Regions from separate parts of the Homo sapiens genome. Here region 1 is linked to region 2. Evidence: fine-mapped expression QTL. A gene starts in region 2. The other region holds a variant in brackets. All regions are shown on one strand. Distances are between the middles of the regions. Region 1 overlaps STXBP5L (syntaxin binding protein 5L). Region 2 holds the start of POLQ (DNA polymerase theta).

What was found. PIP is the estimated chance that this variant, and not a neighbour inherited with it, causes the effect.
Region 1: its variant is fine-mapped to the expression of POLQ in lymphoblastoid cells (GTEx, PIP above 0.99).

What each region holds. Positions count from the first base shown.
Region 1 is chr3:121,394,963-121,411,126 of GRCh38, forward strand. STXBP5L (syntaxin binding protein 5L) reads left to right here. Exons shown (of 27, transcript NM_001308330.2): 23 at 12,281-12,641. Among named protein-coding and RNA genes, the nearest start is that of POLQ, 140 kb to the right of the region's middle. The variant C/T (reference allele first, on the strand shown) is at 9,254.
Region 2 is chr3:121,538,680-121,554,843 of GRCh38, forward strand. POLQ (DNA polymerase theta) reads right to left here and starts at 7,309. Exons shown (of 30, transcript NM_199420.4): 1 at 7,036-7,309; 2 at 6,048-6,227; 3 at 2,670-2,800; 4 at 754-910. The coding sequence starts at 7,198. RefSeq lists enhancers at 7,042-7,271, 7,163-7,457, 10,026-10,185.

The sequences.
Region 1 (16,164 bases), 140 kb before region 2:
AAATAAAACTTCATTTACCCTTTTGTCATTTTTTAGTGGCATGAATTCAGACTTTTGCCAGAATAGGGCCCCTTCTTATATAGACAGATGAAAAAAAATCTATTATCATTCTTTGTGAAAATTCAATGAACTAGATATATAGTTCTTTTCTTAATAGAGCAGAAATAGTAAGTAACCCTTTAGATGTGTGACTGGCAAACATTGAAAGACTGTCAATTATACACATCCTTACTTGGGCATGTAGTTTTGAGGTATTTGCAATTTTACATCTTTTTTCAGGCTAAACCAAACGGAAAACAAAACAAAACTCTTCTATTTCACATAAGAAAAGTCTGAAACAGAAGAAATAATCTTGGACTGTGGAAATATAAATTCAAAATGATGAAAATTTTTTCAAACAAATAAGAAATTAAAAATTATGACTTTTAATTAAGGCTGAGTTTTCCAAAAGCATAGTCTTACAGATGAGTATGATACATATGTTAAATTGTTTCTGCTAAACCTTTAGTCATTAATAAAATATTCTTGCATTTTTTTCTGGTCAGGTTCCATTTTGTTTACAAATAGGTTTTTGAGGGTGGTATGCCTCAATTATAGGAGCAGATTTATTATGATAAATACTGAGATCAGAAAGCATGTGCAACTGCATCATAGAGTGATTACATCTAGGCATTATTGCCAGCCAAGTTTGATAAATATGCCCAATAAGTATAATTGTTCTCTGTGTCAGCCCTTGTTGAAGGAATACTCACAGCAATGGTGATACCGCTATCATAGCTACCATTAAATTACTCATTGTGAGTGGTTGTCCCGCTTTCCTCAGGTTTTCTTCCACCAGCTGTGACAGCTTCTTGATCTGTCCCCAGGTGGGTGGCTGTGTTCGACAGGTGTTGCTTGTGACAGTTGGGGTCCTCCTCAGCGTCAGTCTCGACATGGCTGCAACCGAGGGGTCCTCGGGATCCTCCCAGAATCTCTTCCTCGGCATCTGGCTTATGAAAAAGTTTCAGGTGTCTTGATGGTATCCAAATTGGCTGTTGATTTTGGCCTGGAGAAACACAAGCATAACGTCTACTCCAAGTTATTATTTTACCTATTTCCCAACTTTTTGTTATCAGATCTCCCCACCAAATCAGTTGTTCTGCTTCTCTTTGCAGCTGGTTTCTGTAGATGCTGTTCAGCTGCTGATAACATCTGGCCTTTGGGCAGGCTCAAAAAATTTAGTTAATAATGCCAGATTCAGTTGTATCTGCAGTGTTCCATATTCTCTATTTCCCCCTTTCTGCTTTTGCAACTGCTCTTTTAAGGAAAGATTCATTCTTTCCACTATGGCTTGTCCTTGAGAATTGTATGGGATACCAGCAATGTGTTTAATATTCCACATGGAGAAAAATGTAGCTAGAGCTTGGCTAGTATAGCCTGGGGCATTATCTGTTTTAGTAGAGGCTGGAATGCCCATCACCACAAAACACTGCAAAAGGTGATGTTTAACACAGGCAGAGACTCTTCTGATTGGCATGTAGCCCAAAGTGAAAAAAGGTGTCCACACATACATGTGCATATGCTAGTCTCCCAAATGAGAGAATATGTGTGACATCCGTTTGCCAAAGAGAGTTAGGTTCCAATCCTCGAGGATTAACTCCTCCTGTAAAAGATGAAGAATGTACCATTTGGTAAGTTGGGCATCACTGGATAATATTTTTAGCTTCTTTCCAGGTAATGCTGTATCTGCATTTGAGACCAGAGGCATTAACATGGGTTAAATTGTGAAAGTGTCTAGCATTAGATATTGCATTAGCAACTAGGTGATCAGCCATTTGATTCCCTTCAGTCAAAGGTCCTGGAAGAGGTATATGAGCCCTAATGTGAGTGATGTAAAAAGGGTGCATTCTACTTCTAACTGCTGTTTGCAATTGGGTAAATAAAGTCATCGGTTGTTCATCTGTATGAAATTGTAACTGAGCATTTTCAATTAACTGTGTGGAATGAACCACATATGAAGAATCAGAAATCACATTAATAGGCATAGCAAAAGCAGTCAATACCTCAATTACAGCTACAAGCTCCGCTTTTTGAGCTGAAGTATAGGGTGTCTGGAAAACTTTACTTTTCGATCCAGAATAAGAAGCTTTACCATTACTAGACCCATCTGTGAAACAATGAAAATACTTAGCAGGCTGCAGGTTGTTTACTGCAGGAATTGTAAATGCAAACCGTTCACATTCTTGCTCAGCTAAGGGGATAGTAAAGAAACGGTCTTTTAAATCTATGACTATTAAAGGCCAATTTTTAGGAATTATAGCAGGAGAAGGCAATCCTGGCTGTAATGCTCCCATAGGTTGTATAACTGAACTGATGACTGTTAAATCAGTTAACATTCTCCATTTACCTGATTTTTTCTTAATTACGAAAACTGCAGAATTCCAAGGCGAAAATGTTGGAGCTATGTGCCCATTTTCTAATTGTTCAGTAACTAATTCCTCTAACGCCTCCAGTTTCTCTTTACTTAGCGGCCATTGTTCTATCCAAATTGGCTTATCTGTTAATCATTTTAAAGGTATAGGTTCTGGACGCTTAACAATGGCCGCCATCAAGAATGATATCCTAATATTTGGTGGGAACATCGTCTTTCCACTTGAAGCGGTACTTTCAAAGCTTGCAAATTTTTTTCTAGTCCCATACCAGGGACATACCCCATTTCATGCATTATATGTTGACTTTAAGGGCTATATAATTGTTCTGGAATTAGAACTTGTGCTCCCCATTGCTGTAATAAATCTCTTCCCCATAAATTTATAGGTACAGAAATTATAATTGGTTGAATAGTCCCAGGTTGTCCATCGGGCCCTTCACAATGCAAAATATAACTACTTTGATATACATCAGGGGCTTTACCAACTCCAACTATGTTAAATTGAGCAGGTTGAATTGGCCACGCAGACAGCCAGTGCTGTAGAGAAATGATTGAAATGTCCACTCCTGTATCTACCAAACCTTTAAATTTCTTTCCCTGAATAGTTATTTCACAGGTAGGACGTTTATCAGTAATTTGATTTACCCAATAAGCAGCTTTGCCTTGTTTATTTGTGCTTCCAAATCCTCCTGTTCGTTTAATTTTACTTTTTCCGATTCCCACATACGGCACAATCAGGAGCTGTGCCATGTGCTCTCCTGGCTCTGCCTTCCAGGGAACAGAAGTAGATATAACAATTTGAATTTCCCCATTGTAATCTGAGTCAGTGACTCCTGTATGTATTTGTACCCGTTTTAAACTTAAACTAGACCTTTCTAAAAGTAATCCTATTGTCCCCGCTGGCAAGGATCCACAGACTCCTGTTGGGACCTTTTGTGGGGGTTCCCCAGGCAGAAGGCTCACAGCTTTTGTGCAGCATAAATCTACTGCGGCACTACCGGCTGTGGTGGGGGACAGATATTGTACAGGGGTGAGGGAATGGCCTGAGCTGGAAATGCCCCAGTTTAGAACAGCGCCCAGGATGGGCCCCTCATGGCTTTTCCCAAAATCGGGTTCCCATCTTTATCAAACCTAGAGTGACACTGCTTAGCCCAATGTTTTCCTTTTTTACATTTTAGACATATTTCAGGCTCAGCAGTTTTCTTTTTTCCCTTATCTGGCGGCCTGACTTGCTGATTTTTTCTACATTCTTTTTTAGTATGACCATGCTTCCCACAGTTAAAACAAGCCCCAGGAAATGAGTATTTCCTTTATCCACTCTCAGTCCTGCCATTGCCTGTGCCAACAAAGTAGCTTTATGCAGATTACCTCCAATACCATCACAGGCCTTGATATAATCAACTAAATGTGCTTTCCTGAATTTAAAAGGAAAAGGCTCAAATGTAGCTATAATATTTCCCTGCTGATCTGGGGGCTGTATTCTAACAGGGAACTGCCAAGCCTCTAAATCACCCTCTCTTCTAGCTTGCTGAATTCCTACCTGAATAGAACTAAGAGTGGTCGCTCGAGGCACTGCTCGAACAGACACTGGGGCAACTACTTTTCACCCAGTGTCCTCCGGAAAAGAAAGATCTGGAGGGTCAGGCCACTCTTTTTCTTCAAAATAATAATGAGGGGGTGCAGAAGGGTAGGGATGAACCTCTCCCTCCTTTTCCACTTTAGTTTTAGCTGGCAAATAAGCCTGGTCTGTAACCTCTTCTGTACTTCATTATACTCTCCTTCCTCCTCCTCATCAGTGTGAAAAAGTTCCAAGGTGGAATGAACCAGACCCCACACTTGTCCCATTGTTACCCTGATGCTTCTGAGCTCCCCTTCTTACTCACCATGGGGATTGCTTTAAGAGTACTCGGGTGTCCTCCAGCTAGTTCCATGTTCTCCAACCATTGCTCCAGTGACCCTTCAACCTGGATTCAAGCCCCCATGATGGATGCCACTTGCTGAGACCAGCTCGGTTGGGGAGACCCTAACTCAGTGGCACTAGAGGAATTAAAGACACACACACAGAAATATAGAGGTGTGAAGAAGGAAATCAGGGATCTCATAGCCTTCAGAGCTGAGAGCCCTGAACAGAGATTTACCCACGTATTTATCAACAGCAAGCCAGTCATTAGCATTGTTTCTATATTAAATTAACTAAAAGTATCCCTTATGGGAAATGAAGGGATGGGCTGAATTAAAGGAATAAGTTGGGCTAGTTAACAGCAGCAGGAGCATGTCCTTAAGGCACAGATTGCTCATGCTATTGTTTGTGGCTTAAGAATACCTTTAAGCAGTTTTCGGCCCTGGGAGGGCCAGGTGTTCCTTGCCCTCATTCTGGTAAACCCACAACCTTCCAGCGTGGGCGTTACGGCCATCATGAACATGTCACAGTGCTGCAGAGATTTTGTTTATGGCTAGTTTTGGGGCCAGTTTATGGCCAGATTTTGGGGGGCCTGTTTCCAACACCTATCACTTTTGTCTGCATCAAAATCACTTGAAGCATTCATTACAACACAGATTACTGGGCCCTGCCCCCAAAGTTTCTGATTCAGTAGGTCTGAGGGAGGGTCTGAGAATTTGCATTTTTAGCAAGTTCCCAGATGTGCTGAGTCTACAAAAATGAAACCTTACTTGTCCCTTTTGTCTACTGATGCACAGGGTTCTGCTCCCAGAAGGCCCTCTGCTCTTAAAGTCTTAAAATTCTTAATAATTTTATCTTTTGATGTATGCTTTGTAAGTAAAGACCAATGAGACAATGGAGCATGCACCAGGGGCTTGAAGCCTCTGCTCATGAGCAGTCTGCCTCCCACCTACCTCTCACCCAGGCGATGACTTAGTTTGTTGGGAGAGAGGCATTCCACTTTCACTTTCCACTGCTTTTGGGGCCTGGAGTATACATAGAGGTGGTCGGGGTCAGGCACATGCCTGGTGACATTTTGGGGCATGGAAGCAGCCATCCTTATCCTGAGTTGGTAGTACTTGGTGACTCTAGCATGTGATCGGCCAACCAGAGGCCATGTCTCAGATTGAGAGTCTTAACCAGTCCTGTTCCAGGTAGCTAGCACTTCCTAGCAAACAGTTTTAAAGACTTTCTGGGAGTCACCCCTCTTCTATGGTTTGAGGTGGCAGGATGGGGTCTTATTGCTGTAAAGAGGAGAAACTTAGCAGCCATCAGACTCAAATGTACTTAAGTAACTGAAGTCATGTGGTGAGACCCTCAGATGCCTGTGAAAGTCTGCAGTCATCTTGCAAGCATTCTCAAGCTGCAAGAGATATCCCCATACCTAAGAATGTGCTCCCTCAGGTCTGGTCTGGACTTGAATGACCCTGTCTTCCACCTTCCAACCTTCCTGAGACTGACTGGTTTGTCTCTTCTGGCCAACTCCCTGTGAATAATCATTTCATAGCTCTGGAGACTAGCTATTGTGTTTTTGCTACAGTTCAAAATAGAGGTTAAATGTTCTTATATAGAATATTATGAATAATAAAAAAAGTTAACTTTCCTTTACATAGAACATAAATAGCAAATATAAAAACACTAAAGAGATAGACCACAGAAGAAAGAAAAAAGCTTTATAATTTGCAACCTTCAATGGTACCTCTTCTCCCAATTTTTTTTTTATATGTTTTGCTCATTTATATGAAATCCAAGAGCAGGCAGTATTAACATATGACAGAATAAATGAGAGCAATGGTTGCCCCCTGAGAGGCTGCCTGGCTGCATGTGTTCAGTATGCGGGTTCACAGGCAGTATATGCATTGCTCTGTTCATTTTTCAAATAACAAATCAGTTTTTAGCTGTGTGTCTCCCTTCAAATCTCCACTGTTTCTTCTGAATTCTGTAGGGCACCACGATTGCTTTCCTAACCTCTAGGAGCATCCCCTACCTACTATTGCAACTAGCACTTGTGGAAGTCAGTGTGGCGATTCCTCAGGGATCTAGTACTAGAAATACCATTTGACCCAGCCATCCCATTACTGGGTATATACCCAAAGGACTATAAATCATGCTGCTATAAAGACACATGCACACGTATGTTTATTGCGGCACTATTCACAATAGCAAAGACTTGGAACCAACCCAAATGTCCAACAATGATAGTCTGGATTAAGAAAATGTGGCACATATACACCATGGAATACTATACAGCCATAAAAAATGATGAGTTCATGTCCTTTGTAGGGACATGGATGAAATTGGAAACCATCATTCTCAGTAAACTATCGCAAGAACAAAAAACCAAACACCGCATATTCTCACTCATAGGTGGGAATTGAACAATGAGATCACATGGACACAGGAAGGGGAATATCACACTCTGGGGACTGTGGTGGGGTCGGGGGAGGGGGGAGGGATAGCATTGGGAGATATACCTAATGCTAGATGACACGTTAGTGGGTGCAGCGCACCAGCATGGCACATGTATACATATGTAACTAACCTGCACAATGTGCACATGTACCCTAAAACTTAGAGTATAATAAAAAAAAAAAAAAAAGGAATTAGATTTACAGTGACAAAGAGAATGGTGGAGGACAATGAGCACATAAGAGATTTCAAATAAAACCTTGAAGACAAAAAGTGGTCAGAAAAGTGCTAGTTCTCCCAATTTTTGAACAAAAAGTCCCCCATAATTTGTAGGCCTAGTGCATTTTCATTTTGTGCTAGGCCCACAAATTGTGTAGCTGATCTTGAGTATATAAGATAAAATAGAAGTTTAAAAATCCATAATTAAGACTGAACTGGAGTAGTCAGGAAGTTAATAAATGTTTATTGAGCACATGACATGTCCAGATATTATAATAAGCACTGAAGATAAAGTAATGACGAAGTCATACGAAGTTTCTGTCCTCAAAGAGCTTACATTCTAGATAGGAATTGAGAAGTTCCGTGGAAGTTGAGAGACAATTAAAGTTTAAACAATGTATGTAAGGGAAAAGGAAAGCAAATATCTCAGGCTCCTTAAGACTCCAACTTTAATATAATTCTTCAGCCTCACTGGAACCTTAATCTATTGATCCTACCATTTTCATTGTCATTCACCCCCTTCATGTTCCCCCTTTCTAACTTTAATTTCACAGTCAAGCTCTATAATGCTTTTCTTTCATGCATTGTCAACTCTCTTGCCTCCTTTTTGCTTTGTTTGCTTTGTCATACTTATTCAGCTTAATCTCAAACCTGATTAAATTCAACTCTACCTATCCTATTTCTAGACCCATGTAGCTGAATATGGCTAGAGAAAAATACATAACCACACTAAAGTGTCTCATTTTACCATAAATCATCACTAACTTCAAGTGGGCTCTTATGCTGCTAGGTAATCATACTATATTTTCCTAGTCCTTGCCCCTGCACTCCTGGACAACAATTGCATATTTTCTTGTTTATCCTTTTGGTTGTGTGTGTATGTGTGTGTGTTTTGTTTTGTTTTGGTATAGATGAGGTCTCACTCTGTCACCCAGGCTGTAGTGCAATGGTGCAATCATAGCTCACTGTCGCCCTGAACTACTAGACTCAAACGATCCTCCCATCTCAGCCACCTGAGTAGCTGGGACTACAGGCATGCCATCATGCCTGGCTAACAATTACGTATTTTCTCTAGTCTCTTTAAATCTCCAAAACTTGCTTTTCTGTCTTCAATCTCAGCAATCACCATGTGTCCTCTTTTATTGAGAAAATTGAAACAATCAGATAAAAACTTCAACAGCTATCATCACATCTACCAACCTATCTGCTTGTATCTTCATGGCCTGCATATTCTCTCCTGTTACAGTTACTAAACTAAGCTTCTAACTAGGTGATTCATTTAACAGAATCATTCTATCTCCTGGCCTATCCTAAAGGGAATCAAGGTTGGAAGCAGGGAGAGCAGTGAAGAGGTTAATACAATAGTCTGGATGAAAAATGGATAGAGGCTTGTGTGAACTGTGTGGTAGTTATTCACTATATTCCACTTATACTCTAGACTCTGTTTGTACACTAGACTCCACTTATATACTAGACTTTACCTGCTTTCACCTACTTAAGAAAGTCAATCCAGCAATTTTTCCTTTGTTTCCTTTATAATAAATGTTTTTCTTTCTACTGAATCATTATATAAATATATTGTTATATCTTCCATTAAAAAAGAGAAACAATGGGTTCTAGGCTGTATTAGTCATGGGCAATATAGTAGTGAATAAAACAGACAAAAGTCTTTGCCTTCATAAAACTTACTTTCTATGGTAGAGATAGATAATATGTGTGATAAATAAGTAATTATATGGGATATTAGACACTAATAAGTACTAAGGAAAAAATTAGAGCAGAAAAGGAGATAGGAATTCTTGGTCATTTCTCAGGAAACATCTTATTTGACATATCAGCAACGTATTACACAGGCTACCATTCCTACCTTAAAACACTTCAAATTCTAGAGTGCTATTTTCACCTGATTTTCTTCCTACCTTCTAGCTATTCCTTCTCAATCTCTTTAGCTTGTTCCTCCTCCATTTCAGTGGACTTAAACCAGAATGCCCCAAGACTGATTCTTTGAAACTTTTCTCTTTATATTGAAGCACTAGATGAATTCAGCCAGCTTCATGCCTTTAAATGTCTGATGGATCATACATTTATATTTATAGTCTGGACCTCTCCACAAATTCCTAACATATATCCAGCTATTTGATATCCATTTGGATGTTTAGTAAGTATCCCAAACTTAACATGTTCAAACCTGAGCTCCTGGTATTCCTCTCATTCCTCTCACACTTTTCTACATCTATTAATGACAATTCCATTCTTCCAGTTTCTCAGGTCAAAAA[C/T]ACTGGAATCACCCTTGACCCCCATATTTCTTTCATACCCTAAATCCAATTTGTTAACAAATCCTGCTGGCACAACCTTTACAATACACTCAGATTCTGACATTGCTCACCATCTGTACTATTACCACACAGTTCAACCAAGCCTCTATCCATTTTTCACGCACACTAATACACTAACCTCTTCACTGCTCTCCCTGCTTCCAGCCTTGGTTCCCTTTAGGATACACCCAGGAGGTAGGGTGATTCTGTTACATGAAAGTTAGATTACATCACTTCCATTCTCAAAATCCTTCCATCTCACGCCAAGTAAAAGTCTAGGTCTTTACCATGTCCTGAAAGAACCAACATGATGTGGCTCTACTTTATCTCTCTGATCTTACCTCCTATGAATCTTCTTGGCATTCTAGAAAGTCAAGACCTATAAAGAATCTGAGATTTTATTCTACTTGTAAGCTAATAAAGTTAGGTTGCCAGTTTCGATGCTGATAGAAGACATGAAACTCCTGGCTCAGGGACAAAGGATAATTTATTATTCACAACAGTCATAGAATATCAGTATTTTGTGCTGGTTTCCTGAACCCTAATTCCCACAGGATGATGAAAAGAAGCCTTCCCTTCTTTATTAGTTTGCTCAGGCTGCCATAATGAAATACCACAGACTCAGTGGCTTAAACAGCAGAAATTTATTTTCTCACAGTTCTGGAGACTGAAACTCTAAGTTCAAGGTGCCAGCAGGGCAGATGTCTAGTGAGGTCTCTTCCTTTGGGTTGCAGATGGCTGCCTTCTTGCTGTGTGCTCACATGGCCTTTCCTTTGTGTACACATAGGGAGGGGGAGAGAGAGAGAGAGCATGTACTCTGGTATCTCTTTTTAAAAGGACACTAATTCTATCAGATTAGAGCCATACCCTTATGATCTCATTTAATCTTAATTATTTCCTTAAAGGCTCCCTCTTCAAATAGATCCATAGTGGGGGTTGGGGCTTTAACATATGATTTTTTTTACAAGAGGTTGGCAGGGGATGCAAACATTCAGTCTATAACACTATTTAAAATTTATCTACCTTTTTTCAAGAATTCCTATCTTCTTTTCTGCTTTTTTTCCTTAGTACTCATTACTATCTAATATCCCATATGATTACTTATTTATCAGACATATTATCTATCTCTACCCTAGAAAGTAAGTTTTATGAAGGCAGGGACTTTTGTCTGTTTTATTCACCACTATATTGACTATGACTAAAATAGAGCCTAGAGCACATAGAATGTACTTGATACTGTATGTATTGATTGAATGAAGGTTGTAGTCGGCAAGGCTGGTGATTTGGGAAAGCTGGAGTAAAGTACACTCCTAGCCAGTGAGTTCTTCTTTAAGAGGAAAGTCCTAATTAATTAAGATCTTATTATTGAAGCCCATAAGTTTAAGCATACTTTGTAAGTGTATTTCTGAAGTAGTAGCTGCTTATGATTTAGATTTACTTGAGTTTTTTCCAGTTGGAAAAGATTAAAGAAAGAATTCTAAACGATTAATAATACATTGTTTGGAAAACTTAAACCCTGTATAAACCTAATGAACAGAATATAATCAAAGCATTTATGACTAAAAATTAAGAAACAAAGCAGCTGTTTTGGCAAGGGCAGCTTATTGAGAAATTCATTTTGATGCTGAAGATTGTATGCAATGAGTATAAGTAAAATGGCTTTCAAAATGTGGATTTCTTGTCTTTTTAACCTACTGTCAGCCATCTCTAAATCAAGGATGAAAAGATATACTTAGAAAAGTCTTTCTATGGCAGGTAGTTAGGAAAATGTGGTTTTACTGAACAGCAGGATCAATCCTAGGTTAATTTTAATTAAATCATTCTTCAGAGCTGTTGGCATTTTTCCTTCATGGGAGATTGGGAGAGATGTTCTTTTATCCCTTAACCCTTAAACTGCAGCACCTAAACCTCTACTCCCCTAGCCTCTGCCGTTACCCTTATATACATTTATAGATTTCTTAGTTTTGAAGTGGATTTAAAAACACAACTAAGATATTAGATCATCCCAATATACTCTTTTCAATTTGATAAATTTTAAGGACTTTGTAAGTACTTTCTAAATGAATATACTTTTATCTGTCACCCTTCCCTTTTCAAGTCTCTGTCACATGTACACCCTTGAGACATTATCAGTCTAAGCTAACATACTTTCTCTGCATGATGTAAAAGGACAAAGGAAAGAAAGGGCTAATAGGGTACTGCTTAGGGAAGATTCTGGAAATATCCAAAGATCAATAGAGCCCAAACTACCTCCTAAGCTTTATAGTATATTGTCCTCCAAGACTGGTGAAAATCACCTATAGGCAATAATCTGGCATACATTGTCAACCTTGGAGAATCCAGGTGAGTAAAACCCCTTTCTGTGTAAAGATGCAAAAGCCTACCTAAGAGCTGAAGGTAATTGTTTTGTCTTTTTCATACAATTAAAATTGCCACCGTGAATTCCAGATATTGAAATTTCTTCTTGTTTGATTTTGAAGAAAAATCAAGCATTTTCTAGCAAATTAGTCTATGAAATAAGAAAATCAAATAAGATTGTGTGATTATTTTTCAGTTGAAGTTATTTCAATAAATAAAATATGTACATTTTTAAAATTTTCTTTTTTATAAAAGGACTTTAAGGGGGACTATATAGTATAATGAAAGAATCGTGGGGTAGGAATCAGAAAAATCTGAGTTCTAATCTAGGCTGTGACCTAACTTGCTGTGTGACCTGGCCCAACTTTCATAATCTTTCTGGGTCTGTTTTTTCTTCTTTTTTAATATAATGAGAGGGTTTGACCAGTTGACGTCTTAAGTTCCTTTTAGACCTAACATTCTATGATTCCAACTTATTATAACAGATGAGCTCACAAATCTACAAATTCATATACATTAGGGCAATATTATGACTCTATAGGTATAAATTATCACAATGTAAAACTTTAATTCCCTATAGATGCTTTAGAATGAATTTGACATGTCAGTGATGTCCAATTGTTTTTATAGGTACATTCCTCTCATTGAAAGGAGCTGTGCTAACATTCTCCTGTATGGACCGAATGGGTGGATTAATGCAACCGCCATATGAAGTTTGGAGGGATCCAAACAACATAGATGAAAATGAAAAATCTTGGAGAAGGAAAGTGGTAATGAACTCATCTTCTGCATCCCAAGAAATAGGAGATCATCAGTATACAATAATCTGCTCAGAAAAACAAGCCAAAGTCTTCTCACTGCCTTCTCAGACTTGCCTTTATGTTCATAACATCACGGAGACATCTTTTATACTGCAAGCAAATGTGGTGGTCATGTGTAGCAGTGCCTGCTTGGCATGCTTTTGTGCTAACGGACATATCATGATAATGAGGTACTTGCCTTCTTATAAATTATCTGGTAATCACAACAATACCAGCAAGGTACAATCCTAAAAAATATATGTGTTATGTGCAGATGTTATCAAGAAGCAAACTGAGATTATTGTTTCATTATGTTTCTGGATGTTTTATTGTTCAACGATTTGATGAGAGTTTGGGGGTTTTGTGTTTTGTTTTGGTTTTTCTTTTCTGCTAAAAATGCTTGGCATTGTGAGTGAAATATATTTTTAATTGTTTTGAAGGAATCTAAGAAAAGAATGATTTTTCAATCATTCAACAAATATTTATTGAGCATATCTCCCAGATGCTACACTAAGCACTGGAAATAAAAGATGAATAAGCTAAATAGAAAAGAAGTTAACTTTTACTTTTCCTGTGTTTGATACTTCACCCAAGAAATTTACATACAGAGTTTCATTTGATCCTTAGAACTTCTCTAGGACATAGGAAAATAAACTATTATTTGCATCCTCCATTTTACATGTGTTAATAAAGTTACACAGTTTGCCTGAGGTTGCAAGTCTAGGAAAAGTGAGGCCAGTCTGATAATTAAAAGTTATCAGATACTTTTAAAATAAAATATTGGTCAAGAGATTTCATTCTACTGTTAGTGAAATGAAATAAAATTTACGAGACACAAAAATAATTACCTAATGATTTTATGAATTCAGCAAATAGCTCATAAACGTATACTATATAGAAGTCACTGTCATTTTTTTAATATCTCACTTATTTCCAAAAATCATTGAGATGAGCACTGTGCTAGGCCTGTGAAGGATATAAAAATTAGTAGAACATGGTCCTAACCCTTAAGAAACTCACTGTCTAACTTGGGAGATAAGATAGATACACAGACATTATAACAAAAAGAAAATATAAATTCCAACAGAGGAAATATGGGATTGAATTTTCTAGCCACAAACTAAGTTCCCAGAGTTCAAAGTCACAGCATAGTTGAACATGTATTATAAATGAAGAGTTGTTGGGAGGACAGTAACATGGAGAGGTAGTTTGAAGCAAATTGTTGACGACCTTGAATGTCAGGCTGAGTTTGACATTTATCAATTAATAGGAAATGGGGTTTTAAGCAGGTAATTAACCTTCTCTAGCCATGTGTTAGGACATACACAGGGAGGGAGAAGTTGAGATAGGCTTTTGAACTGAAGTGGTGTCTGTATTGAAGGCAACGAGGAAACAGGTGTAAGGGAAACTTATTGAATGCAAAGCTGATTGGTTATGAACAGTAATGGAAGTTGTTAAATCTCGAGGTTAGAAGAGAGTTTAAAGGTTAAAAATTTTTTTGAACTTAGATAACGGTTATGTTATTAGCATATAGGAAAGTCAGAAGGATTTGAAAAAGCCAATAAAGAGAAATTTAATAATAAATTGAGAATAAATATTTGAAATTTTAGGTGTTATAAGCCATCCAGCAGAGGTTTAGCAATAAATTTAAGATTTGCACTCTTAGAAAAATATATGTGGAAGGTCCAGCTTTGGAAGTCATCTATGTAAATGCATCAGTAAAAGTTATGTCAGGAAATGAGATAATAAAAAAGATAGCATAAAAAGAAACAAGAAATTGACTGAGCTGAGGATAGAAACTTGGGGGTATTCTACGTTTATGTAGTGAAAGAAAGAATAAGATGCAGCAAAGGAGATTGAGAAGTTATTAGAAAGATAGGAAAGGACCAGAATTGTATAACTTCATTAAATAAAAAGAGAAGAATATTAAAACAAAAGAGGTTGTCAAGAGGTAGTAAAATATAGCAGAGAGGTCAAAGAATTTGGGTACAAGAAAAAAACAGTAGATCTCACAACTGGTGGGATATTAATGATCTTTGAGAAAGCAAATCTTAGCAGCATGGTGGAAACAAAAGCTAATTTTCAAGGAGACAAGAATAGAGGCAGTGGTATAGATCAGGGTTTAGCAAATTAATATCCAAAACAAAATCGACCTCCATTCCCCTATCTGATTTTGTACAGCCTGCAAGCATTAAGAATGGTTTTTACATATTTAATGGTTGAAAAAACTCAAAGAGAAGAATATTTCATGATATGTGAAAATTATACTAATTTTAAATGTCAATGCCCATAAATAAAGGTTTTGGAACACAGCCACACCCATGTTTCTGTATATTGACTATGGCTGCTTTTGCACTACAGGGCAGAGTTGAATAGTTGCAACAGAGACTATATAGCCTAGAGAGCCTAAAATATTTACTATCATAAATATTTATGGGCCCTTTTCCCCTGGTATTGATTATTCTTTCAGGAAATTTTGTGGTTAAAAGAGAGATGAGACAGGAAAGTCGCTTAAGAGTGAAACTAGGTTTTGAGAGTGTTTTTTTTTTTAGATAGGGAAAATATGAGCAGATTTGTAGGTCAAGGGAAAGTAGTAAAGGAGAAAATTTTGAATAAAAATAATCATTTTATGGTCTGTTCATTCTCTCATGTATTTCTGATTCTTTTCTATCTAGTTCCCCCTTTCTCAAACTGTTTTTAGAAATTTCTGATAAGGTCATTTCAATCTTGTTTGAAAATGATTTAACTCCCATACATGCCTCAGATTTGGGGGGGAAAAAAGGTCTATTTGTGTATGTGTGTAAATGTGTGTATCTCTCACACACATACATTGAGTCATTGATAAATGGTATCTGTCTTCCTCTGTCCTTTATAAAAGCTGCTTGACATGATAATGGTTACTTTGATATTGTGTCATAGTAGAAATTCTTCATGTGTTCCTGAGGATCCTCAAAAATAACTGAAAAGGAAATAATTTTGATATGATTTTAATAATACATATACATAAAGTGTAGCTAGGAAACAATGGTATGTACTCTGCTCTATGGTTTAAAGAAATGAATCCTACAAATTAGCATGCACCTGGCCTCATTCATTTTCCCATACTGAGTATATTCCCAGGATCTTTCCAGACCCTATCAGAAGGTAACTCTCCTGAGCCCAGTCTTCTCAAGTCCTGGGTTTCTGATAGATATCAGGTAGCTAGCCAGTGGTTACTTAGATCCTAAGTACCCAGACTCAGAAAAGCAAGTTTGAGAGTAGAGAGGAGAAATAGAAGAGGCTTATCTTTGTATGAATTCTCAAACTTGGCTGTAAGAGACACTTTTTGTGAGATCCACCTTTAGTTACCCGACACTATTTCTTTATTAAAGTGTCCTGCATAGAAGAAAGTCTTTTTTTCTTCTGTTATAAGAGCAATTGTTTCCTAGCAGTTAGCAACTGACTTGCTCTTTCTCTTTTCCTACCTGAAGTGACTACACCTCTTTAATTTTCTTTTCTTGGCTTACTTGTTATTATACAATATAGACAATGTAGCACATCAGAAAAGTCAGTTGGAACCTCTTCCTCAACTCCACCCTTTAATTTGACTGAATCTGTCATGGAAATCTGTTTAACTGGGATTGGTTTGGACTCATATCTTAAGGAGCTTAGTTACCAGAAGTGCTATAACAGATCATCTTTTAATATCTTTTTAAGATATTAGGTAATTCTTTC
Region 2 (16,164 bases):
TCAAATATTTAAAGTCCAATGGGGTCACAAGTAATAAGACAATTCTGATACAAATCAATTGCAATTTCTCTCTCCAAGCTTTATGGAGCATAGCCTATGTCTGATTCCCACCCTCCACCCCTACCCTACCATAACTTTACCATGGTATTTTTAAGTTCACCAGCTTCTCAATAATTAGCTGATATTCTTGCTACTTCTGCTGCTGCAATCCTTCTATTCCTGTTGCTACCTCTACATAATGGCCTTTCCATAATGGCAAAAAAATGCATTAAGATAGAAAATCTTCCCACAATCCCAAGCTCAAATAGAGTGTCAGTTTCTTTAGCTTCCTACCATTTCCATGCTAAATGACAGACTCTGGGTCCAAGCCCAAAATAGACATCATAGCAGCAGAATATAATAACAAAAACCCATATACACTAACCACAAAATGGCAGATCTGGCCCAGCAGGCCTCCTTCTATTCCTGGTAGAGTTTAGATAGGAAAGAAGCAAGGAGAAATTATTGAGGGCTCAAGGATATAATCTACGTTTTGTAAAGTACAAAAATGCAACGTAACGGAGTCAATAACAGCAGCAGGACACAAAACTTATAAACACAGCGTTCCTAACATTACAGATGCCAATCCTTGCCTCCAGAAGTAGATAATAGACAATAGGAAAACAAATGGGACCTAGAGAAATCACAACAGCTCCACTTCATTCCATCAAAAATAGCAATAGAAAGTATTTACTTATTTTCTAACTTTCTTACCTAACAGATCCATCTTATTTTCCTCTATGAGGCGATTGATCAGACCATTGGCTCTCTCAATTGTGCAGACTGCAATATCCAATGAAGAGAAATGCCTTGATGGAGAGGTGCTGCCCATATAACCGTCTACTTTTATTCCTACTTCCTGAAACAGACTCTGAATTGAGTAAAAAGGAACAATACAGGTGAAAAAACTTGAAATTCAAGAGTTATAAACTGGTTCTATCCCAGAACATAGACATAAGTATCTAAAGACATCTACCAGATTACTGTCATCAGTTGTTTCTGGCCAGGACACACTGGTTCTTTTTAGATCATATACTAAAAATATAAAGTTTAGAACTGACAAAACTGTTAAGAGTCAAATAAAATTATGCCATTTTAATGACAGCATAATAATCTAAAAACTTCTAAGAGCTATTTAGAGGAATTAAAATTGGAGAAAAACTACCTTAAGCACTAACATTTTTAATCTAATAAATAGCAAGAAACTAGCTATAACACTTAAAGAAACAAATTTATACTTCATGAGGAAAATAGTCTCATTATCCTACTAATGACCAATTTTTTAATGTAATTGGAAGAAAAGTTTTTAAAAGTCAAATTCAGTGGGACTTTAATAATAATTTTTTTTTTTTTAGTTTAACTTTTAACTAACATACCTTTCAATAAAAAGGATCCTTTCATCATTTCGTTACTTTGGGTCTAAGTTGAGTGATGTTACCATGTATGACCAGCTTTGTTGGCTACTGTGCCTCTGAAATAACTATTAAAAAGATTTATAGAACCATAGAAATTTAGAGCTATTCATTCAATAAAATTTTCCTGAGTGTTTACTAAGTTAACCCACAGGGCTAAGGGTTAACATCCTAATTTTACAAATAAAAAAACTGAGGCCCAGCCAGTTATATGCCCGGCCTAAAGACATAGTTAGTGGCAAAACTGGGACTAGAACCCACATTTCTTTAACAATCAGTATAACAATCTTTCCATTTCAAAAGCACATATTTTTCACTGCAGAAATCACAACAGTAAATTTATTCCATTTAATAAAATATTGTATTTGTGAAAATGCCCTAAAAACTGTGAGCATCATATTGATGTAAACTACTATTAGTCATTTTTGCAGAACAGAGGAACAGATCACATACCTGGAGCTTTACCTAAGCACCAATGGATCTTGACCTTCATCCCCTAAATATTCCTAAATAGTCCTCAATTAGGGCAGGATACACTTCCTTAAACACTCTTTCCTTTCTATGCTTCAGTCTAGTCCTACTGTTCAGTTAAATGCTGATTCTTAATGTGCGTGTTTATATGCTAGTTTAAATATTCTGTTTATTTCCTAAGAAAAGGTTTACAAATTTTTACACAATTTTCACCAATTATTCTTTTGATTTGATGGCCCCTTCTCCTTAATGCAATAATAATTTTCTTTTAATTTCCTTCTGTAAATTTTTTTAATTTTTTTTTTTTTGAGACAGAGTCTTACTCTGTTGCCCAGGCTGGAGTGCAATAGCGTGATCTCGGCTCACTGCAACCTCCACCTCCCAGGTTCAAGCCTCAGTCTCCCGAGTAGCTGGAATTACAGGTGTGCGCCACAACACCCAGCTAATTTTTGTATTTTTAGTAGAGATGGGGTTTCCCCATGTTGGCCAGGCTGGTCTCGATCTCCTGACCTCAGATGATCCGCCCACCTTGGCCTCCCAAAGTGCTGGGATTACAGGCGTGAGCTACCACACCCAGCCCCTTGCTGTAAATTTTTAATGCTTTTGGCAGTAGCCTCTTAAAGCTACATAGGGCACAATGAAGAAACTTTGTTTTCCACTTGCTTTTATAATTCTATTTCAAATGAATGAAACCAAGACTGCCAATAATGAGCCTTTCACTATTTCAAACTTAGTAAAAAACATTACCTGGAGGTAGTATTTCTTCTCTTTAGCCACAGAAACAAAGGGAAGAATAAACAAAGCTTTCTTCCGCATTTCCAAAACCCGCTTCAAAATAAGTAATTCTGCCACAAGAGTCTTCCCAGCACTTGTAGGAGCTAAAACATGATTATTCCACAAGATTATAAGAAAAAAGTAATATTCGGTACAATTCATTAATAAATGTTTTAAGCCATGTGTAGTACTACAGAGCCTAAGGCTAACCAATCACTAAGGGCCCAATAGCACTTAAAATCTTTATACCCTGAAATGCCCTTTACTTTAAACCACCTGTCTTAATAGTCTCAACTAAAAACAGAGTAAATAAATCTTTATATCAGCAATATGATGAATACTACTGAGTACCTAGTTTATACCTAAAGATCCTTTCCTTTAAGTACCAAATGGGTAAAAGGCCTGCTTTGAGGAAGTAGATGAACAATTTTATTATGATAGGAGCTATGATCGAAGTTGAAGAAAAGGGCTGGGCATGGTGGCTCATGCCTGTAATCCCAGCATTTTAGGAGGCCAAGGCCGGGGGATCACTTGAGGTCAGGAGTTTGAAACCATCCTGGACAACATGGTAAAACCCCATCTCTATTACTATAAAAATAACAAAAAAAAAAATAGCTGGGCGTGGTGGCGGGCACCTGTAATCCCAGTTACTCAGGAGGCTGAGGCACAAGAATTGCTTGATCCTGGGAGGCAGAGGTTGCAGTGAGCCGAGATCACCCCACTGCACTCCAGCCTGGGCGACAGTGAGAGACTCCGTCTCAAAAAGGAAAAAAAAAAAAAAGAAGTGGAAGGAAAAAAGTTGCAAGGAATCTTATGGAAATGAAACAGAATTTATGAGAAGGTAAGGAAGAAAGCAAGAGGAGGCCACGATGGGCAAGGTGTTGTATGTCTGTAATCCCAGCATCTTGGGAGGCTGAGGCCTGAGAATCACATGAACCCAGGAAGAGGAGGCTGCAGTGAGTTGCAGTCACGCCATTGCACTCTAGCATGGGTGATACAGTGAGACTCTGTTCCAAAAAAAGAAAAAAGAAAGGAAGAGGAAAGGAATGCCATGCCTAAGAAACAGCATATGGTACAAAGGCCTAGAAGAAAGCCTGGCATGTTCAGATGACACAGAAGGTAATTTAGTAAGCATGGAGTATAAAGTACCCCAGGGGTATAAAAGAAGAGATATGAAAGTGCCACAAGAAAGGTTTATAATCCCACCATTTAAGGAGTTTAAACCTTGTCCTGAAAGCAATGCAGTGTGACTGATGAGTTTTATGAAAAGGAGTGACAAGATCATATTTGTACTTTATAAAGATCACTTTGGACTGGGCACAGTGAATCATGCCTGTAATCTCAAAACTTTGGGAGAATCACTTGAGCCCAGGAGTTCAAGACCAGCCTGGACAACACAGTGCCACCCCCATCTCTACAAAAAATTTAAACAAAAATTTTTTTTAAAAAGACCACTTTGGGGCCGGGCGTGGTGGCGGGCGCCTGTATGTAATTCCAGCTACTCCGGAGGCTGAGGCAGGAGAATCACTTGAACCCGGGAGGCAGAGGTTGCAGTGAGCTGAGATTGTGCCATTGTACTCCAGCCTGGGCAACAAGAGCAAAACTCCATCAAAAAAAAAAGACCACTTTGGCTGCAGGAGCAGGGCAAGATCAGAGGAAAAGAATGAACTAGTTTCAAAGCTATTGCATAATCTAGAAGAAAGATGATAATGAGCTGTACCAGGTAATGGACCTAAAAACAGAAAGGAGTCAGAAGCAAGAGATATATGAGGTAACAGACACCAGGACTTGGTGATTAATTGTATAAGCTGGTGACCAGAGTTCTGAATGATACCCAAGTTTCAGTTTCAAGCAATTGAAATGGTCAAGCAATTATGCCACTGCCACTAACTATGACTTCTTAGCATTTACAAGTATTTTATTTTTTGTAATGCCTTTTCACAATACAAGTACTTTCTATGTGCCAAAAACTGTTCTGAGCTTTTATATATGAAATAATTTAATCAACTCTAAGTACTACCGAGGCACACATACTCACAAACACATATACACTCTCTCACTCTTCCTAAGTAATCTGTGAGGCTGCATAGCCAGTAAGTGATAGTTTTCAAATCCAACCAGTCTAATTCCACTGCCTGAACTTATATCTGCTGATAATTATTTAATTCGTCCTTACAGCCATAATGAAAAATCTGTGTGACTCATAATTTCGGAGAAAACTGACACAAAGGAATTGCATCTTACCAAATGATTAGATTTAAAGTCAGTGTAGTAAGCATGCGTTAAAAATTGTGTATGCCATAGTTGCCCATGAAAACCCATATAGGGCCGGGCATGGTGGCTCATGCCTGTAATCCCAGGACTTTGGGAGGCTGAGGTGCGTGGATCACCTGAGGTCAGGAGTTCGAGACCAGCCTGACCAAGATGTGAAACCCCGTCTCTACTAAAAATACAAAAATTAGCTAGGCATGGCAGCGGGCATCTGTAATCCTAGGTACTCAGGAGGCTGAGGCAGGTGAATCACTTGAACCCGGGAGGCAGAGGGTGCCGTGAGCCGAGACAACTCCATTGCACTCCAGTCTGGGCGACAGAGCAAGACTCCATCTCAAAAAAAAAAAAGAAAACCCATAAAAATTTTATATAAAGTATATTACTTGTTGTTTGTATATACAACCCTGTACAAACAGGTCAATCTATAGCTGGGCACGGTGACTCACACCTATAATCCCAGCACTTTGGGAGGCTAAGGTAGGCAGATCACTTGTCAGAAGCTCAAGACCAGTCTGGCCAACACAGTGAAATCCCATCTCTACTAAAAATACAAAAAAGTAGCTGGGCCTGGTGGCGCACACCTGTAATTCCAGCTACTTGGGAGGCTGAGGCAGGAGAATCACTTGAACCTGGGAGGTGGAAGTTGCAGTAAGCCCACATAGCGCCACTGCACTCCAGCCTGGAGACAAACTCTATCTCAAGAAAAAAAAAAGGTAAATTAACAAACATGTAATGATAATGCTCATACCCTGAAAAGCAACCAGGATCAAACAGGGGAAGGGCAGATTTACATCTCCCATTGCACACTCACTGGGATATATGTTTGTTGAGAATAATGGCAGGCAGAATTGCCCACTCTTTAAATTGTCATTTTTCTTGCTTCCCTCCACCCCAGTCAAACAATAAAACTTTTGTAATTTAAATATAAATAAAACTCCACTTTTCACACATATTGTACGATTTTCTCTAGTTATAAAGCACTGCCTCATTCACCTTTTAAACGAACCACAACTACCTCAATAGAGTATTCTTTACATTCATATCTTAAAAATAGTAATTAGTTTACATAAATTTGGATACCTGAATAAACTAAATTCTTTCCTTCCAGGACTTGTCCAAGCAAAAGGCACTCTGCCTGCCATTCAAACATCTTTTTTACACCAAAACTGTGGTATTTTTCCAGAACTGCTTTAGGAAGTCCCCAGTTTGCCAATAGTAGCTTGTCTCTTTCGTAGTCAGGAACTGTAGGCTTGCATTCTCCTTTTAGGAAAAAGAAAAAATTAAAATTTAATTTACTTCTAATATATGAGTTTTACAGTTAGCCCTTCACCGTGTGTTGGAATTCCTATGTGTTGAAATGAAGCTCTTTAAAGCACATCCTGACTTCAAGAATCTTATGAGAAATTGACCATGTATAGAAAAGTAATAAATTGTTATTTACTGCATATAATAAAAATTCCTTAAAAGCCTCAAACGAACAAAAAAGCGTGCAATACACAGTAGATAAAGAGTGTTGGAATTACGGGTGTAGTTGGGGGAGGAGGGCAATATGCAAGCATTACAAAGCTAAGTTAGGTGAGTTTCTATTTATAGTAAGTTTTAGTTCCATGACGACTGCACAACTAACGATTTTAAAAAACTGGGTCGACATCCACGGGACACCCAACCAATCTCATTACGAATCCCTTCCAGCCTTCCCCTGGACGCCGAACAGCCTGTGCCGTACTCCAGGCCCAACAATCCTGTCTTAAGGGTCTGTAAGGAGTACTGGGTACTACCAGGAACGAGCCGCCCAACAGATGATGGGATGAAGCTAACTAGGAAGTTGTTTCTCTAAAGGTCGAAAGATCCAGAAGCCACGTGAACATTAATACCAGGCGATCACTGAAAACACGCGTATGTCTGAACAGAAAGTGACCTGCCACACCAGGCCCCAGTCACAGAGAAGGGGAGTAGAAGCCCAATGGGGTATGCAACGAAGCAAGTCCCGTGGGGTGAGGACACCTCCCGACCCATGGCCCGGCGGAGCTGCCCCCGTTGCCCGCGGCCTCCCGGGTTCCTGGAGCACCTGCAGCTGCGGCCTTCAGGCAGCGACCAAGGCCGGGCGGCGGGCTCAGCACGGACCCGGAGAGGAACTGGGGGCTGGCACTGCTGTCACCGCCGCTTCCCGAGAACGAATCTGAGCCTGATTCTGAACGCCGCCGTTTCCCACTCCGACGCAGAAGATTCATGGCAAACTCTTCTCGGCCGATCAGGGCAAGCCACAGTCCCAGCGTCCTCCCTCTCGGGAGAACCCTGGCCTGGCAACAGCTGCGGACATCTTCCCGCCAGTCTTCAAACTCAAACCTCCCGGCCCGCCCCGGAACCATAGAGTTCTCCGTGGCTTAAGTAACCCGAAAGCCATAGACTCGTGGGGAAGGAGCGGCTCTCGCTGGCGTCTAAGACTTCCGGCCTCCAACCTCCTGGTTGGTTAATATGAGAGATAGATTAAAGAGGAAGAATACAGAATCTACAGTTATAACCATACTGACCTAAAAGCCTTCCTTCTCCTTTTGTCCATTTCTGGTTTGAATAGGAAGGCCATGCTAACTTCATAAAATGGGCTGCCCATAATAGGTAGATCAGGGAAGTAGCTCTTCTTAACGTATTGGTATTCTGTAAAAAATTATTTCAGATTGAGAAGCATTATGCAAGATAGCCTAGGGTTTCTAATAGAGCATAATTTCCTCCTTTCTCCTAGTATATGATGGTAGGGCAGGGCTATTTCTGAACACAATTTCCATTTTAGCCAGCATGCATTGTGAGGAATATGTAATGAGGAATTGGGGATTGCTGGCTGACAGACCCCTGAGACACTATATGAACGCCGCGAGGAAGGGGCTCTGAATATACCCCAGGGATCGTTATGAGCCAAGAGCTTAGTAATGCATCTGTGTTGTCCCTTTTGTAAAGGTAGAAGCGAACGAGTTCTGAACGTAAAACGGTGACCATTCATTACCTAGTTGCATAATTCATTTCACCAAGCAAAACTAGTAGGCCCTAAGCCTGACCTGAAGAGGCTGTGCAGTTCTAGAGCACTAAAAATCTCAAAAGGTCCAGTCCAATTAAAAAAAAAAAAAACACTCGAATACAATCTGGAAAATAGCATTCGAACCATCAATTCCTTCCGTGAAAACATTTTTTTGATTTAAATGACAATATTCTAAAGTTCCACGAGATGGCGACATTACTCCGTGAATGAAACATTTTTCTCTTGGCCTTTTACGCAATCAACAACTATTTACTGAGTATCTACTGTAAGCTAGCCACTGGGTAAATGGCAGTGAAATGGCATAAAATGGTTCCTGCTCTCAAAGAGAAAGAGTCTAGAGAATAAGGCAGACATTAAACAAGTCAGTTAATGAAGTGTGCCATATGCTTGGGCAGAAATGAAGAGTACTATTAAAGAAATAAAAGAGATCTCGCCGGCCGTGGTGGCTCACGCCTGTAATCCCAGCACTTTGGGAGGCCGAGATGAGTGCATCACCTGAGGTCAGGAGCTCTAGACCAGCCTGGCCAACATGGTGAAACCCCGTCTCTACAAAAATACAAAAAATTAGCCGGGTATGATGGCGGGTGCCTGTAATCCCAGCTACTCTGGAGGCTGAGGCGGGAGAATTGCTTGAACCTGGGAGGCGGTGGTTGTAGTGAGCCGAGATCGCACCACTGCACTCCAACCTGTGCGACAAAGAAAGACTCCGTCTCAAAAAAAGAAAAAAAAAAAAAAGAGAGAGAGACCCCTAGATTGCAGCCAAGAAAGAACTTTCTCAGATGCAGTGTAACTTAAGGGTTAACAGTGCAACTCTGGAGTCAGTCAGTCTAGGTTTGAAACTTAGTAGCTGTGAGATCTTGGGCAACTTGCTTAACCCATTTTTTGTTTGTTTGTTTGTTTTGAGACGGAGTGTCCCACTCTGTCGCCCAGGCTGGAGTGCAGTGGCTTGATCTCTGCTGACTGCAACCTCTGCCTCCCAGGTTCAAGCGTTTCTCCTGCCTCAGCCTCCCAAGTAGCTGGGATTACAGGCCTGCACCACCACACCTGGCTAATTTTTGTATTTTTAGTACAGACAGGGTTTCACCATGTTGGTCAAGCTGGTCTCGAACTCCTGACCTCAAATGACCCGTCCACCTCCGCCTCCCAAAGTGCTGGGATTACAGCGTAACCCTTTTGTGCCTCCATGTCCTCATCTGTATGATAGAGATAATAATTGTAACAACCTATTTGGTTATTTTGAGGACTGAGTAAGTCAATATGTGTAAAGTACTTAGAATAGTGCCGGCACATAATAAATACTATTCAGAGAAAATATTTAGATGTTCTAATATAGCCCCCAATTTAAATTCAGCATTTTGCTGGGAAAAGGCTAAACTAGAAAAATCTCTTACAAAGCTATTCTGTTTTTATTATTAGGTGAACTATGATCAAATCAGAAAAATAATTAGAAAGGAATTGAAAGTTTTATGTCATCCTACCAAAAGCCTAGAGAATATTTTAAAATATATAATTTATTTTAAATGTTCAACATTTCTAATTTTTTCAGAAAAACTCTGAAAATGGAGAATAGAAGGCTATTTCTCAAAAATATTAAAGATGTTTATGCTAACAGTTATCATAATAACTAATATTAAAATACCAGAAGCATTTTCCATCTGTATTGTGTCTAAACTCGTGTTCCTTGGAATTTTGTCTGTGATAATTCCTCAAGGAGGCAGGGTGCAGTGGCTCACACCTGTAATCCCAGCACTTTGGGAGGCCAAGGCAGGCCGAATCATTTGAGGTTAGGAGTTCGAGACCAGCCTGGCCAACATGGTGAAACCCCATCTCTACTAAAAATACAAAAATTAGCCAGGCCTAGTGGTGCACCTGTGGTCCCAGCTACTTGGAAGGCTAAGGCAGGAGAATGGCTTGAATCTAGGAGGTAGAGGTTGCAGTGAGCCAGGATCACACTGAGGGAAGAGAGAGACCCTCTCATATTGGGAAGAGAGAGACCCTCTCATATTGTTTTATATTGTATTATACTCAGTACTTGTTTTTTTTAAAAAAAAAAAAAAAAACAAGGAAGTAAAACCAAAGACCAGCAGCCCGGCGCCACGCCCGAAACCAGGCCTGGGCCTGCCAGGCCTCAACCCAGTAGTTAAAAATCAACTCATAACTTAGAAACTGATGTTATTCATAGATTCCACACATTGTATAGAAGAACATCGTGAAACTCCTTGCCCTGTTCTGTTTCTTTCTGAATACCAGTGCATGAAACCCCTGTTACGTATCCCCTAGACTGCTCAGTCAACCACGATCCTTTCGTACGAAAACTTTAGTGTCGTGAGCCCTTAAAAAGGACAGAAACTGTGCATTTGGGGAGCTTGGATTTTGAGATAGTAGCTCACTGATACTCCCAGCTGAATAAAGCCCTTCCTTCTACAACTCGGTGTCTGAGAAGTTTTGTCTGCAGCTCATCCTGCTACAACACCATTGCACTCCAGCCTGGGTGATAGAGCAAGACTCAGTCTCAAAAAAAAAAAAAAATTCTTCAAGGTCTGAGCAAACCCCTCCAAATAAAATTTACACATACTTCTGCCAGTTACCTGGGAGACATACCAATTGTGGATCACTTTAAATTTAATCTTTGGCTTTTTAAAAAATATGTAAGTAGTAGAATTATGCTAGATACCCAGAGTCAGGTTTGTGCAGGCTTGCATCCTTATTGTCTCAATCTGCAGGACAGATATTTCTCTGCTTCATTCACTGAGAGTGCTGCCTTTCTTGGGTTTTGGCTTTCTGCAGAAATTTTTTTTTTTTTTTTTTTGAGACAGAGTCTCACTCTGTTGCCCAGGCTGGAGTGCAGCGGTGCGATCTCAGCTCACTGCAACCTCCGCCTCCCAGGTTCAAGCGATTCTTGTGCCTCAGCCTCCCGAGTAGCTGGGACCACAGGTGGGCATCACCACGCCCAGCTCACTTTTGTATTTTTTGGTAGAGATGGGGTTTCACCATGTTGGCCAGGCTAGTCTTGAACTCCTGACCTCAAGTGATCCACCCCTCTTGGCCTCCCAAAGTGCTGTGATTACAGGTGTGAGCCACCACACCTGGCCTATGCAAAGAATTTTAGATCTTACTTCTCACCCTGCTGGGAACAACAGAGCCCATAATCCATGCTCTAGACTCCAGGGGGAACAGCAGGCATCACTATGGAAAACTTTGGGTCTAGTGCTTTTCTTAATCCTCTAGAATATGTTTGACATTTCTGTCCTACAAAGGATTCCCTGATTTTAATCAACTTAGTTATGAATTTTAAAAGTTTTTAAAATATAATATTTAGAATTTTAAGGAAGATGTGCCATACTCGAAGTGGTTTTTTTTTTCAGTTTAATATTGCTAAAAACAGAAGAAAAAAAGCCCCCAAATAACAATAATTGATGTACATTCAAAAACATCATCTGATTTTTTTTAACTTTACATAAATTATCAAGAGTGATTTCCCATGGAAATTTCAGAAGTTATATGGAAAAATAAAATTTTACCCAAATTAGGCCAGGCACAGTGGCTGACACCTATAAACCTAGCACTTTGGGAGGCCAAGGCGGGAAGATCACTTGAGCCCAGGAGTTTGAGCCTAGCCTGCACAACATAGTGAAACCCTATTTCTACAAAAAATTTAAAAATCAGCCAGGAGTGGTGGCCCATGCCTGTAGCCCCAGCTACTAGGGAGGTTGAGGAGAGAGGATTGCTTGAACCCAGGAGATTGAGGCTGCAGTGAGTTGTGATGGCACCACTGCAATCCCCCGAGTGACCCGGTTTCAAAAATAAAAATAAAAACAAAAACAAAAATTACTCAAACTACATTTGTGAATTGACTAAAACAGAATTATCTACCCAGACTGAAAACTCTGTTTCTCATGTGATGTGAGTGGAAGTGATTTACAAAAAGGCAAAGAAAGAAAGGAGCTGGAAAATAAACAACGAACGTGGAATAAGGGTAGTACTGATTAGGTCTGAGGTACTCAGAACAAAGGAGATGCTAATTAAGGAGATTTTGTGTTTGAAATCCAGTGACTCTCAGCTAAAACAAGTCCAGTGGTACACATTAGAATCCCTAGGGAGCTTTTAAAATATTATAATACCCCTGGAGATTCTGAGTTAATTGATCTGGGATGGAGTGCAGGCACTGACATGTCTTAAAAGCTCCCCAGGTATTCTGACATGCTGGAATTGAAAACTACCAGTGCGGCCGGGGGCGATGGCTCACACCTGTAATCCCAGCACTTTGGGAGGCCGAGGCGGGCGGATCACGTGAGGTTGTCGAGAGTTCGAGACCAGCCTGACCAACATGGAGAAACCCTGTCTCTACTAAAAAAAAAGAAAAGAAGAAAAGAAAGGCCGGGCATGGTGTCTCATGCCTGTAACCCCAGCACTTTGGGAGGCCGAGGCGGGTGGATCACGAGGTCAGGAGATCAAGACCATCCTGGCTAACACAGTGAAACCCTGTCTCTACTAAAAATACAAAAAAAATTAGCCAGGCCTGGTGGCGCGCACCTGTAATACCAGCTACTTGGGAGGCTGAGGCAGGAGAATCGCTTGAACCCGGAAGTCAGAGGTTGCAGTGAGCTGGGTTCGCGCCACTACACTCCACCCTGGGTGACAGAGCGAGACTCCATCTCAAAAAAAAAGAAAAGAAAAGAAAACCACCAGTGCACACAAGGGATGAGGCTGACTTGAATTCAGGTGGCTTCAGTGAGAAAGTTTTAATAAGAGGCTTAAATTAACAAGGAACTCTGACAAAGACCTATTTTTCCACAATGCCTCAAAGAACTAGTTGAAATAGCTTACTTGTAGATGCAGATGAAAGCACAACTGAAATAACTTCAAAAGTCTAAGTTAAAACATCAGAAAGCCAACTTGAAGGTAGTAAAACTAAAGAATGAATCCCAATAAAAAGACTAAATTACTTGAACATGTAAGAACACAAACCCATAACTTCCAGATTCATACATAGTCCTGTCTTAGTTTGGCTGCTATAGTAAAATTCCTTTGACTGCATAATTTATAAACAACTGAAATGTATTGTTGGCTGGGGGCAGTGGCTCATCCCTGTAACCCCAGCACTTCGGGAGGCCGAGGCGGGTGGATCACTTGAGGTCAGAAGTTTGAGACCAGCCTGGCCCACATGGTGAAACCCTATCTCTACAAAAAATACAAAATTAGCCAGGCGTAGTGGTGTGTGCCTGTAATCCCAGTTACTCTGGAGGCTGAGGCAGGAGAATCACTTGAACTCAGGAGGCAGAGGTTGCAGTGGGGAAAATCGCACCACTGCACTCCAGCGTGGGTGACACAGTGAGACTCCATCTTAAAAAAAAAAAAAAATATGTTTTCTGTCTTGTCTCTCTTGCTTGGCTGACCTTCCTTTGTCCCTGGACTAGAGAAAACTAGGATTTTCTTGTGACTTCTTGTTGTTGTTGTTGTTGTTTTGTTTTGTTTTGGTTTTGGTTTTGGTTTGTGTTCATTGGCATTTCCAGGTTGCTGGCCTCTCCAGTGTCCCGTTTAGAATATATAAAACAAAAAAACAAAACCCAAGCAATTCACAAAAGTTTAGTTTTTTGGTTCCCCAGGTCCTTGCCTGGTCTGCCTTCAGAATCTTCATATGTTTGTTTACATATAATGGTCAGGGCTTTTAGTTCCACTTCTCAGGAGGAACGGGGGAAAGCATATCTACTTCATCGTCCCAGAAGCAGAATTCCCACCTTTTAGTCTTTTAACCATCTTTTTACAAACAGACATTTACAGTGTATGATACTGCCCTTCCCAGATCCCTTTTACTGGTTGTTTGACCCGACCCCTGGCTGCCATGTTGGTTGATAACTCACAGCTGCCCCCTCCTTGGAGGAATATCTCAGGGACAAACAGAAGCTGTCTTTGTGTGGCCTATGCACCACCATCTACACTTTCGGCCAGGGCCTGACTGCTATCAATGCTGCAGATTCGTGCTACAGAGCTTCCTCCTGAAATGAGACTGAAGCTAGTCTGCAGCTGAGACCATGTTCTTGATACTTATGGTGCTGAATTTATCCATCTTTTCTCTTATGGTTAATGCTATTTATGCATTTGTTATCTACCATCCCTCCTCCAACTTCCCTGCTACCTTTTCCCCTTTGACCATCTCTGGTTCTCCTCTTTTACTCCTTCCATTTTTCTAAATGTGTTTCTGTGATATCAAGGTGGACAAAGCTAATCTCAACTCACTTCAGCTCTCTAAGCTTCGATTATCTCATCAGCAAAGTGGGAGTAATGTACCAACCTCGCACACTCCATAAGATCATGCACTTGCAGGCACTTGCACAGGGTTTGCAACACAATGAGAGAGAATAGACAGAAGCAATTTGTATCGTAATTCCATTGCCTCAGACTCTTTTATGTTACCTACTCTATTTTATACTTTAATTTGTAAAAGAAATATATTATTTTCTCTGTGTAAAATTCACAGCAAAGGTGGGCATCTTCTGCTTTCCTTTGGTACCTCAGCCCTTCCATCTTATTGTGCTCCTCCCCTGTTGCTCAGACCAGAACACATCTCACTCCTCCCAACTATCTTCTGCCATTCTCACTGTTCTCTGCCACACCCTGTGCTCCCTCTTGCCAGTAGCTTTCTGTCCCTGTCCTGGTCTTCTGTAGAAAAATGCTCAAGTTCTCCTGTCCACAGCATTCTTAGAGACCCAGTCTAAATCAGAGAAATTGGAGGGAGAGTTGAGTGGGACATGCAGAGAATAATGAAAGCTCCTCTTCTTGTCTCTATATTAAAAAAAAAAAAAATTAAGGCTGAGAGCAGTGACTTAGCACTTTGGGAGGCTGAGGCAGGTGGATCACTTGAGTTCAGGAGTTCAAGACCAGCCTGGCCAACATGGTGAAACTCCATCTCTACTAAAAATACAAAAATTAACTGGCCATGGTTGCTGCGCGCCTGTAGCCCCAGCTACTCAAGAGGCTGAGGCACAAGAATCGATTGAACCCAGGCGACAGAGGTTGCAGTGAACCCAGATGGCGACATTGCACTCCAGTTTGGGCGACAGAGCAAGACTCTGTCAAAAAAAAAAAAAAAAAACCGCCAAGAGTGGTGGCTCACGCCTGTAATCCTAGCACTTTGGGAGGCTGAGGTGGGTGGATCACAAGATCAGGAGTTCAAGAACAGCCTGTCAAGATGGTGAAACCCTGTCTCTACTAAAAATACAAAAAAAAAAAAAAATTGCCGGGTGTGGTGGTGGGTGCCTGTGATCCCAGCTACTCAGTAGGCAGAGGCAGGAGAATCACTTGAATCCAGGAGGTGGAGGTTGCAGTGAGCCACAGCACTCCAGCCTGGGCAACAGAGCGAGACTCCATCTCAAAAAAAAAAAAAGAAATGAGTTAGAAGATGAGGGGACAGTTGGAGCTAAGCGAATTAGCAATTAATTTCAAAAAGCAAAATTGTTCATATTGATATTTAAGAGAAAAAGTGGCTTGCAAAATTTAATAGGAAGCATGATACAAATATTTTGGAAAAATATAAACACATAGACACACTCAATAGAAATAAGTAGATTATACCAGGCACAGTGACTCATGCCTATAATCCCAGCACTTCAGGAGGCCAAGGCAGGCAGATACCTGTGGTCAGGAGTTTGAGATTAGCTTGGCTAACATGGTGAAACCCCATCTCTACCAAAAAATACAGAAATGAGCTGGGCGTGGTGGTGTATGCCTGTGATCTCAGCTACTCGGGAGGCTGAGACAAGAGAATCGCTTGAAGCCAGGGGGCAGAGGTTGCAGTGAGCCGAGATCACGCCACTGCACTCCAGCCAAGCCAAGATCGTGCCACTGCACTCCAGCCTGGCCAATAGAGAAAGACTCCATCTAAAAAACAAACAAACAAACAAAACAAGGCCGGATGCGGTGGCTCACGCCTGTAATCCCAGCACTTTGGGAGGCTGAGGTGGGTGGATCGCTAAGGGTCAGGAGTTCCAGACGAGCCTGATCAACGTGGCGAAACCCCATCTCTACTAAAAATACAAAAATTTGCTGGGCATGGTGGCACATGCCTGTAATTCCAGCTACTCGGGAGACTGAGGCAGAAGAATCTCTTGAACCCTGGGGTGGAGGTTGCAGTGAGCGGAGATCTTGCCACTTCACTCCAGCCTGGGC